Regions from separate parts of the Homo sapiens genome. Here region 1 is linked to region 2. Evidence: fine-mapped expression QTL. A gene starts in region 2. The other region holds a variant in brackets. All regions are shown on one strand. Distances are from middle to middle. Region 1 overlaps YBX3 (Y-box binding protein 3). Region 2 holds the start of YBX3 (Y-box binding protein 3).

What was found. PIP is the estimated chance that this variant, and not a neighbour inherited with it, causes the effect. A credible set is the group of variants that fine-mapping cannot tell apart.
Region 1: its variant is the best candidate, but not a certain one, in a credible set for the expression of YBX3 in whole blood (TOPMed, PIP 0.55).

The regions. Positions count from the first base shown.
Region 1 is chr12:10,699,333-10,704,718 of GRCh38, forward strand. YBX3 (Y-box binding protein 3) reads right to left here. Exons shown (of 10, transcript NM_003651.5): 7 at 4,719-4,816; 8 at 2,628-2,802; 9 at 1,922-2,021; 10 at 1-322. The coding sequence ends at 1,956. Among named protein-coding and RNA genes, the nearest start is that of YBX3, 21 kb to the right of the region's middle. The variant G/A (reference allele first, on the strand shown) is at 2,832.
Region 2 is chr12:10,720,581-10,725,966 of GRCh38, forward strand. It overlaps YBX3 (Y-box binding protein 3), which reads right to left and starts at 2,743. Exons shown (of 10, transcript NM_003651.5): 1 at 2,270-2,743. The coding sequence starts at 2,531. It overlaps LOC124902876, which reads left to right and starts at 2,472. Exons shown (of 2, transcript XM_047429946.1): 1 at 2,472-3,080; 2 at 4,457-4,738. The coding sequence starts at 2,530. The coding sequence ends at 4,526. RefSeq lists silencers at 1,989-2,388, 2,519-2,618, 2,639-2,858.

The DNA.
Region 1 (5,386 bases), 21 kb before region 2:
GTGGTATTAATATTTCTTGTTTCAATATATATATTACCAAAACAGTAAAAACCAGGAAAAAAAATAGAAACCTAGCGGTTGCTGAAACTGGAGAGGCTACTCTCTTGTCTTCCGTGCAGGAATTCCCAGGTTCTCAGCTTGCTGGAAAAATTTGTTGACATTTTCTTTTTGTAGTTGTTTCTTAAAGAATAACAGTAAACATTCCAATGTCCAAATCTTGGTTAGTCTTCCACTTTATTGCTTGGATGTTTCTTTGGTGTTGGTTAAGGTTGTGGCCTGCTTTTTGCTTTATTTCTGAATGGTCATTAATTCTTTAGGTCACCTGGGAAAAATTAAAATCAAACTTATAAAGAGTGACAAAGTAACCATGAGTTAAAGAATAAAAAGGCAGAAATTATATGCTTTTCATATAATTAGAAAAAGAGTACTTCAAATGCTCTAAATACAATCACATCTTGTATAGATCTGTAAGCTATATGTTAATTAAATGGAAACTCTCACTTTTTAATAAAGTATTTTTATAAACCAGAAAAGTCAGTACATAAGAGCAAAAATTTTATAAAATTGTATAAAAGAAAATTACCATTACTAATGAACAATACTCAAAATCATTTTAGTGGCTGCACCCTATCTCCTAATATGAATATATCACAATTAGCTATTTACCAAATGTCAGACAGACTGTAAATTGTAAAAATATTTTTTCCCAATATTTAAAATTATTTCCTTAGAAACAATACCTAGAAATAATGTTACGCCATAAAAGGGTATGGCCATTTTTATATTATTAATATGTTACTCTGAATCAGCTAATTCCAAGTTTGAATAGGGAACTTATTTCTGTGACAAACTGTCCATGCTACCCAAGATAAAACAGAATATTGTCCTCAAAGTGAATGCTTACCTAATTAATGGCTGATTAAAATCCCACATCACTGGATATAAAAGCAGATGGCCTTAAGACACAAGAACTTATAATAATCCCAAAACTTCATTGATGAAATTTTAACAATTTTTGAAAAATAGCATTGACACTGAGTTTACAACCTCTCTCTTAACTAAAAGCTAATGGAAAGGGTGATAACCAAGAAGTATAAGAACTAAAGTCTCAGTTAAAAGGGTTATAGGTTAAAAAAAAACAAACCCAGAATTTATAATTGAGTTGATCTTTCTGGCTATAATTCTATGTAAATAAAATGTCCAAGACCTTTAAAAGACAGAAAAAAGTAGAAAATGACAAGAAAATAACAAGCTATCCTTTTACGAGAGGTTATTCTTTACCATACCCTATTGTAAACACTCCCTGTTATTTCACTTAATAATCCTTGCAACGACCCTAGTAAATATAATTAGTATCCTAATTTTTACCAGTAGCAGATAGTACTGAGACAGAGGATAAACTGCTCAAGATCACCCAGCAAATGAGAGGTACAGTAGAGCCTGCAATGGGTAGATAAACCTTGGCTCTTATACACTATGCTGCACCGCCTCAAAATAAATAAAGTTGATTATCAAAGAAAAAGGGAAGGAAAAAAAATCCTTTAGTTTATTCTACTGTTTCTGATTACTAAACAGGTTCTGAAACTGTTTCTGATTACTAAAACCAGGCCTTTGTTAGGGACTTTTAGCATCAGTTTTCCTAAGTGGTACTAGTAGTTAAAAAACTGCCTGTCTAGAAAAAAGAAGTTGAGTATCATCAACTCTGTCTGAATGCTTATACCCTCACCAAAGCTTATCAAAATGAGGTCAATCCCAGAAATATTTAACCACCAAATCACTTTTTCCACAGAGTCCCAATAGAGACAAGGGGTTGGCACAGATGAACTGCAGAACTAGTTTAGACTAATTTGTACTCTTGTTGAGAAACCAGTGATACTAAAAAGAAAATACCAACTCAAGACTGGGCTGCCCCAGCTCTTACCTGCCGATGGTGAAGGTGCCTGAGGAGCCTGGTGTTACTCAGCACTGCTCTGCTGGGTGGGTGGAGCAGGGTTCTCAGTTGGTGCTTCACCTGCCTTGGCCTAAAATGCAAAACAAAGCCATAAATCAGATAAAGTCAGATGACAGTGGAAAGTTCAAGACTGAAAGTTCTTAAAAGTTTGAATTTTCCTGTGAAGGAAAATTAGCATGCAAAAATTTAACTACTCTTAAGTATGAGTCACAAATTAGTACCATATTCAGTCCCTGGCATCTCTACCAAAACAAAACGAAACCAAAACCTCACAAAAACAAAAAACAAAACAAAACAAAATTAGTACCATATAAGAACAGCTTACAAAACGGCAACTAAATACCACTACTCTCCATAAAGTCTGATATACAACTGCTTTCAACTCATGCTTAGAGGCAGCTTCCTCTTGATAAATGCCTCTCTTCTTTGAAGAACCCCAAATGTTTTAGCTCTGAATCCCCATTAATATGGGTCATTCTTTCAGAGAATGTTAACTGGATTCAAATATGTGGTCTGTGTTATGTACAAGGCATACCCTATATATATGGATCTTGAGCAAAATGTTTTTATATTTGTTAAGTGTCAGGTTTCATGTGATAAAACCACTTTTAGAATGCTAAAGTCTGACATGATTAAAGACTATCTGGCAACATCCGCCCTGACTGGTTGGATTTACCTCTTTGCCATCTTGTGAAGGAGCGTTAGGAGGACGCGGGCGACGCCGGTAATTGTAGGGACGCCGGTATCCACGGCGAACAGACGGCTGGTTTGGACCACTGGTGGCTTGCTGATTTTCTTTATCTTCAGCCTCTCCAACTGCTGGGGCAGGTCGTGGGCGAGGAGGTCCCCTGCTGTAGGGAACACAGAAGAAAATAGAACA[G/A]GTGCCAACAGGACAGGGCTTCTCCAGAAAATAAGGTTTTATTTATTTTTAAAAATTAAAAAGTCAAGTGATCAGGGCCAGGCATGATGGCTCACCCCTGTAATCCCAGCACTTCAGGAGGCTGAGGCAGGCGGATCACTTGAGGTCAGGAGTTTGAGACCAGCCTGGCCAACATGGTGAAACTCCATCTCTACTAAAAATACAAAAATTAGCCGGGCGTGGTGGCACATGCCTGTAATCCCAGCTACCTGGGAGGCTGAGGCATAAGAATTGCTTGAATCCATGAGGCAGAGGTTGCAGCAACCCGAGATTGGCACACTCCAGCCTGGGTGACAGAGGGAGACTCCATCTCAAAATTAAAAAAAAAAAAAAGTCAAGTGATGAGTACTTATTGCTAGAATTATTCGCAGGTCAATGCAACAAATGGAATAGAGGTTTCACGAAAAAAAAATCTTAATTTTCCATCATTTTCCCCTTTCATTTGAATACATATTTGTAAGGAACATACATATACTGAACACATACTCTGTTCCTATCAGGCCCTTTGATAAGCACTAAGAATAGGAAAATTAAAAAAGAAAAGAAGAGTAGTCTGGTATCTGCCTTCCATGAACAGAATTTAGCAGAGACTAAGGGAATTAAACATGAGAAGAAACATTATTATGTGCCAGAGCCTGTGCTAGTCGGTTTTAAAATTAAATATTTAATTTGAATGGTAATTCTGTGGATGAGATTTATAACAAGAAAACCAAGAGGTTTACATGATAAAGTATACGGCTGAGCTATATAAAAGTGCTGCTTTTATAGGTTAAAAAAGGTCAAATATGACTTTCCAAGATCACATATCCAGGGACTGACAAAGCTGAGCCTCACACGCTACTGAATCCTTTTTGTTCCAGTAAGACATTTCTATGCCGTCTCTTTTATTTTCAAAGTCCCTAGTACTTAATCATTAGTGATTATGCCTAAAGCTGGAGGGAACCTTGTGAAGAAAAAGGATACGATCCTTTTACAATTATATTGGTGGAATCCTTTCCCAATATAATATACTTTTTATCCTTCAATAAAGCCATACTGACAAATTTCAAGGTAGCATAAACATCATTCAGGAAGAAGTTGTAGCTTTTCCACTTACCACAAAGGGTAAGATAAAAGAATGGGCAGGCTTATATTATAAAATGCTTCAAAGGGATCTTATGGAAGGAGTCTAGCCTAATTCAGTCTTCCAAAGGAATAAAGCACAAATAGAATAACCCAGCGTTCACTAATATTAACCTCAATGGTGGTAATAATATCTAATACATAGTGAGGCCTTTACTTTATCAGGTACCACACTAATTATCTTAGCTGCATTAGTACCTTTAATCCCCAACTATAGAATATCTCTTTGTTTTCAGACAGGGTCTCACTCTGTTGCGCAGGCTGGAATGCAGTCCAAGAACATACATCTAATGAACTGTAGAGTAGGAAGATAAATTCAGGCGATTTGATCATACCCTGATTTAACCCCTCTACTGGACTGCCTCAGTGATTAACAGTCACTATCCCAAATATCCTCTGACACTCAATTCTTCCTCCATCTGCAGCATTACCACAGAATTGCCCACCAATAATTTATCTGATTTATTTTGATAAAAATTAAGTATTAATTTACATCTTATTATAATTCCAGAATACAAAATGACGCTTTGGCGCAGAGATAACTAAAAATTCTAGTATTAAGTAGGTGGGAAATGTCACACCACCACCTGAAAACTCTGGCATGTAGTCAAAGCATTCACATCTTCTAGATATATAATAAATCCACAAAACGGAACCACACAGTCCTCATTCTACCATTGTGCACACAAGTCCTTTAACTGGCCATTAGTGGAAAATGCGACATACCTACGGTACCTTGGGCGGTAAGTTGGATTTCGATGAACCGGTCCCTGAAGTTGTGCTCCCTCTGGGACTCCATCCTTCATCTCTCCAATCTCACCAGCCTGGAGAGGCAATGAGAGCTGACAGTGAGTGTCACAGCACAGGGGATAAGATACAGTGCATACAGCTATGTTCAGAATTTTTTTTAGAAGTAAAAAACAAAATGCTTCATTACAAAATTAGGCACTCTCAGTTGCAACACAAACTATTTATGAGTAAATCTTCGTGAACGACTGAAAAGGAAGACAAACCTAGTCTGACTAGAATACTCATTTGCTTAGTCCCAGAGCACCTAACTTTATTTTCGCCTATCAATTTAACATTTTGAAATCGGATACATTTCATTCATCTCTTTAAATAAAATACTCTTTTATTTTTCTTTACAACAAACTTACTTTAAGCCAGTGGAATAAAATTAACTTATTGTACAACTTCCAGGGGAAAGAAAGAACAACTTAAAAAAACAAAAAAACCCACCAACAATGTCTGCAATTCTTGACCATACAGCCATAACTCAACTTTCTTTTCTTTTCTCAAAACATCCCTTCCTCCCCCTAAGAGCCAAATACTGTCCTTCATTATTTCATCAAGAAAGAGAAACAGTCAGAAGACAATTTCCACGTTCTCATTAG
Region 2 (5,386 bases):
TTTTGATACATTATATGCATTTAAGTCAGGCAATATTCCAAATAATATGCGTTTAGTGCCTCTTTTCATTTGCCCAAAAAATTAATTACCTGGGAAAATATAAAGACTGGAACTGTTTTTAATATCTAGCATTGTTGAAGGAATAATCTTGATTAAAATGACAATACTAATAATAAAGGAAAAAGATGATAAATAATTCTCAGGTCTAACCTCAATCCAAGCTGAAGGTTATTTTTACTCTCCAATGTAGTTTAAAAAAGTTTCGTAATTCCGCAAATACTTCTCCAAGGACTTCTTATGATCAAATTCATTCCCACGTCTTGCTTTAAACCATAAACCCACTTCATATACACTAAGGGGAAGGGTTGGGGAGGAAGACCATAGATTTCCATAACATTTATCAGAAGGAAAATTTTTTTGCACTCATGAAAACTATTTTTCCTGGCCTATGTGCTTATAAACTCAAGTGAAGGCCCATTTGCAAATACTAGAACATATCCATTTTAGTCAGCATTGTGCCTAGTACATCTTAGGCATCTATGTGTTTGCTTGGCAAAGGAAAGGGGATGGCAGGACACACTAGACAGAGACAAACAGTGTTGAGGTGTCACGTAGAAAGGGCTGTCCTTCATTTTTAGAGAGACGCAGTAAGAGTGGAAAGATAAAAGGCATCAGACTCATCACCAGGGATCTGCAGAGGCAGTTGCTTGAGGAAATTAACCTTCATTTATCTGTTTCCTTCATCTTTAAAGATAGTATCTGCTTTCCCAATCTCAGAACAGTACAGGATTAAGTGAAAAACCGCAAAAGCTTTCTACAAAATAAGGTATCATTAACAATGTTATCCTAACACTGCTTTGGAGAACACAAGGTTTTCTCTCTCAGACATCTGGCAGAAAGTGTTCCAAGAAATATTTGCTAGAAACAACATCACAATGTACTACTGACTAGATTTAAGCAACTTTTAGTCCAGCAAAATCAGGCCTATTTTGTTTCTTAACCTACACAGGTTACAATTAGCATGTTGTTTGGTAGGGACTTAGTAAAAGCCCTAGAAAAAAAAAACAAGAAAATAGTCCTCTCAAGGTGGGGAATATTGAATACACTTCTCTCACATTGCTCCCTCAACTTTCTTCCCAAAGGGGAAGTAGGGCTCAGAGAGATGAGACAAACATGCCCCACCCCAAATAGTGAAGAGGTCTCCGAAGCATCCTACACCATCTGTTAACGTTCCTGTTTATAAGAGCGAACGATATGGACACACACCCTTTAGGGAGGTTATTCACCACCCACCTGCTTTGCAAGCGTTTAAGAACTCACACAGGGGCGTTACTTACGAAAAGAACGCTTGTTATGTGACTAAACCAACAACCATCACAGAAACCCTTTCCATCCACTGCCCCCCCAAATCTCAACATTTCATCTTCCTGTTTCCCTTCCTACGTTACAAGTGCCAAGGTAACAATGTTTTGAACTAACGTCATACCCCCACTTCCGACAAAGTTTTTTCAGCTGCTACACCACGTGCGTTCCCACAGTCCGGGAAGAGGGAAGCGTGTAGCCATTGGTGGACACTGAATGGCTGTTTGCAGCCGTGGGCACAGAGAGGGGGAGGAAGACGTGGGACTAAGACCCAAGTTTCCCGGAGACGATTGCAACATCTCTTTGCTGGCATGTGGCCAACAGGAGCATGGCGTCTTTCCCATGCCCATGTGGGAAGGGCGTCAGGGACAGACACCTGACCCTTCCTGGCAAGAAGCTTTTCTATCTTTCCCTCCCCGTCTCCTTCTAGCGCCCTCCTCTTCCCCAAAGGAAATGCTCTCCTTTCCCAGATCCCAAGCAAGGACCCCAAAGCGCCAGGCCCACGTGTCGGTCCTTCCCCTACATCCATCCCTACCCAAGGTCCCCTCTCCCAGACTGCCTCTCCTTTCTTCTCCAAACGCAGGCATTTTCCACCACGCGAATCCGCAACAGTGCCCGTCTGGGAGACAGAAGTTAAGACCTAAACTTTCTGGCCCGGAACCAGAAGGGAGATGCACACGGCCGCCAGGAGCGCAGGGCGCAGCGCGCTCACCTGGGAGCGCCGGCAAGGGAGGCGGCCAGCGCTGGGGACCCGGAGACCCCTGGGGACCCGGAGATCCCTGGGGACCCTGTGCTGTCAGCGTCTCCAGCCCGGGTGGGAGATGTAGCGCGAGCTGCCCACACGTGCTCCGCGGCCGGCTGGGCCCGCCCCACTACGGCAGCCCCTGCCCTCCCTGGCCTGACTCACCGAGAACTTTTTTCTCCGCGTCTTCGCTGCCGGCGGCGGTGGCTAAAGAGGCGGCGGCCGCGGTGCCCGTGGCTGCGGGGGCCGCGTCCCCACCGGGGTTTCCTGCGACGTGGGCGGCGGGCGCCGGGGCCGCGGCCTGGGGCGCACCGCTGCCCACCGGGCTCTTGGGCGCGGGGTCCTGGGGAGCCGCGGCGGCCGCCTCCGTCGGAGCCTGCGGGAGGGTGGTGGTGGTGGTGGTGGTGGCCTCGCCCGCCTCACTCATGCCTCCTCCTCCTCTGCTCTCGCTCAGGCGCCTCGGTGGCGGTTGGTCGGCGGTTAGCGCGGCTGGTGGTCGCGGCGGCCGGGGCTCGCTCTCGGGGAGGCCGGGGCGGATCTCGCGGCGCAGGCGGCGGCGGCCGAGGTGGGGTCGCGCGGCGGAGGCGGCTCGAGCTTCGTGCTGCGCGCTCTCTCTTGGGCTCCTCGCTCGATCTTACTGCCCCAAAAATGGCCCCGCACAAGTTTTTCTAGGCGGCGCACCGGCCCGGGAGGGAAGGGCGGGCGAGGGGAGAGGGTGGGGAAACTTGGCTCGGGAGTCGGGCCCTGGACTCTCATTAGCATTTAAAGGCGCCCGGTGCGCTTTCTATGGCTCCAATCCGCCGGGACGCGAGCGCGCGGGTCGCGTTGCAGAACCAAGGAAAGCCAGGGTGAACGGGGCGCCCGGGTTGTCTTCTGGAGCGTTCCGAGGAGCCCGCGCTGCTGACCCTTTGTTGGAGCGGGGTGCATTGGCTCTCCTCCCTCAACCCGTCTTGACACCCGCAGCTGACAAGGAGAGGTAAAATAGGGCACCCAAACTACTCTGCGCTTTACCCTCTCAAACACTTGTTTTTAAATCCTTTGCATCTAGTCAGTCATTCAACATGTATCAAGCACCAGCAGCTATTCGTAGCACAGCTGTTAAGACCTGGAATAATAAAACCTTAAGACTATTTGGCAACTTACTCCTGAAAGGTAATATACGGATAATTTCATCTGTAACACGCAGATGAGGAAATTGACCTCACAGATTTAATGTAAATTCAGAGTTTACACCAATTTAACCGCAACAAATAAGGAGCTGTCAATATATATTTAATAAGGAACACACACAAAAAAAGCTGAATAAATCCACTTCCTACCTTCTGCTCCAGTTGCCTCTGCCAGCTGGTGAAAGCTTAAGGAACTGAGCCCTCTTAGCCTCGAGGATGAGAGGTATAGAGAAACAGATCACCCAATAAACATTATTCCCAAGTTGAAGAGCCCACATGCCCTTTGAGAATGGGCTGGATGGTAGTAAACACAGGGCCAGAGGGTCTGGGATCTGTACCCAAAGACTGTCTGGAATACAGGACTATTTGGCCCCTAGGGTTCAGACAGACTAGGTATAAATTCTGGCTTTGTTTTTTATTAACCAGGTTAACTTGGGACAGAGATTCAATGTCCCAGAGTCGGTTTCCTGCTTTATGAGAGGTTCTCAAAGGTGACATGAAAAGTAGATGAGATTATCATGTGTCACTCCAGTGTCCGGTCCACCTAAAGCTCCTTTGTTTTGTTTGTTTTTTAAGTTATTGCCTGTTCCCTCAAACAATTTACCAAATTTTTTTCCAGGAATATGTCTGTAATGTCGATGTCTACCTTAACATCAGTAGGGTAACTATCAAGTGTAATTCATCTTTGTATCTCCACTGGTTAGTACAGTACGTAGCACAGAGTTTGGACATAGTGAATGTTTACAAAATGAAAACAGACCAAATTCTTCCAAACTCAATTACTTATCTGCACATTTGCTATCAATTATTATGAAACTTTCCTGAATTCTTACTTTCTTATTTCATCCACAAAAAACACAAAGAAAATAAGTTATTTGAAAAAATAGCAAATTATGTAATTTTGAGCTTTTCTATGTAATTCATCAATATTTAAAAAATTACAAACTCTTAAATGTTAGATTCATATTTTAGTTTGACTTCAGTATGGAGCATACAGTGATGTTATATAAATGTAGATGCTTTTAAAATGCTGGTCTAATTCTAAGAATGATTAAATTATTTCTTCATGTGAAAGATTATGGTCTTAATTACAATTAAATTATAAACATGATTTATTCTGGTGAGGACTGACCATTGACTTTCTTATTCAGCAAAATGATTATCATTGCTATTTACCTTTCAGAATTACATTACAAGAAAAAAAAGTAAGGAGATTGAACTCTTCAAACCGATCCAACAGTAAAGCCTTTTAAAAAAATTCATCCTTGGAAGTAATTCATAACTAACAGGTGTGATCTCCAACCTCTGGAAGACCCTAAAATAATTACAGATGCACCCTGGGATTTCCTAGAATTTGTGCTGGACTGGCTTCCAAAACTACTCATCATTGTCATCCAAACAAAGCAGTGAGCAGCTGGAAGTTGTTGGTATTGTACTAAATAAATCTAAAGAAAATTAGAACAAATATGATCTATGTTTTAATAATCATAAGTAGGAAGCAACTTGGATACAGATACACATAAATTTATCCATTCCTTCATTCACTAATTCATACACTCATATTTGCTAAGCAAATGCTATGTCCCGGACAAAGTACACCATTGTGAGTATCCAATGTTGACCAAAATGGAGCCGGTTGTAAGGTCTTTTGATATGATGTTAAAATTATTTTTCACTATCAACATTTCTATTGTAAGACAATATCATCATTTACTAAGTTTAAGAGTAAGTCAACAAAGAATTATAATCTAATTGCTGACAGCAGTCATTTTTAAGCAATTATTGGTTTGATCATAAAAACAAATGCCACTCTGTTCCTAGTATGGAGGAAGTTAAAGCTCTCACAACTGTTGGAAGGGCTGAAGGAGGGAAACTCAGAGAAGCTCCACTGAAGATCTCAGCCTCCAGTCCCCAAGACAGTGGTTCTCAGGAGTTCTCCTGAAGCCACTGGAGCCACAAGATCTTTCGGAAGTTCTCAGCAATTCAGGGCTGGATTCAGGTTTTGTGATGCTTAAAACTAATACAATTTAGAGAGCCCTTTTTGAGATAAAATAAAGTTATGAATACTAAAATGCTAGGACTGCTCCCAGAGTCTTCGAAAGGGTCCGTGCAA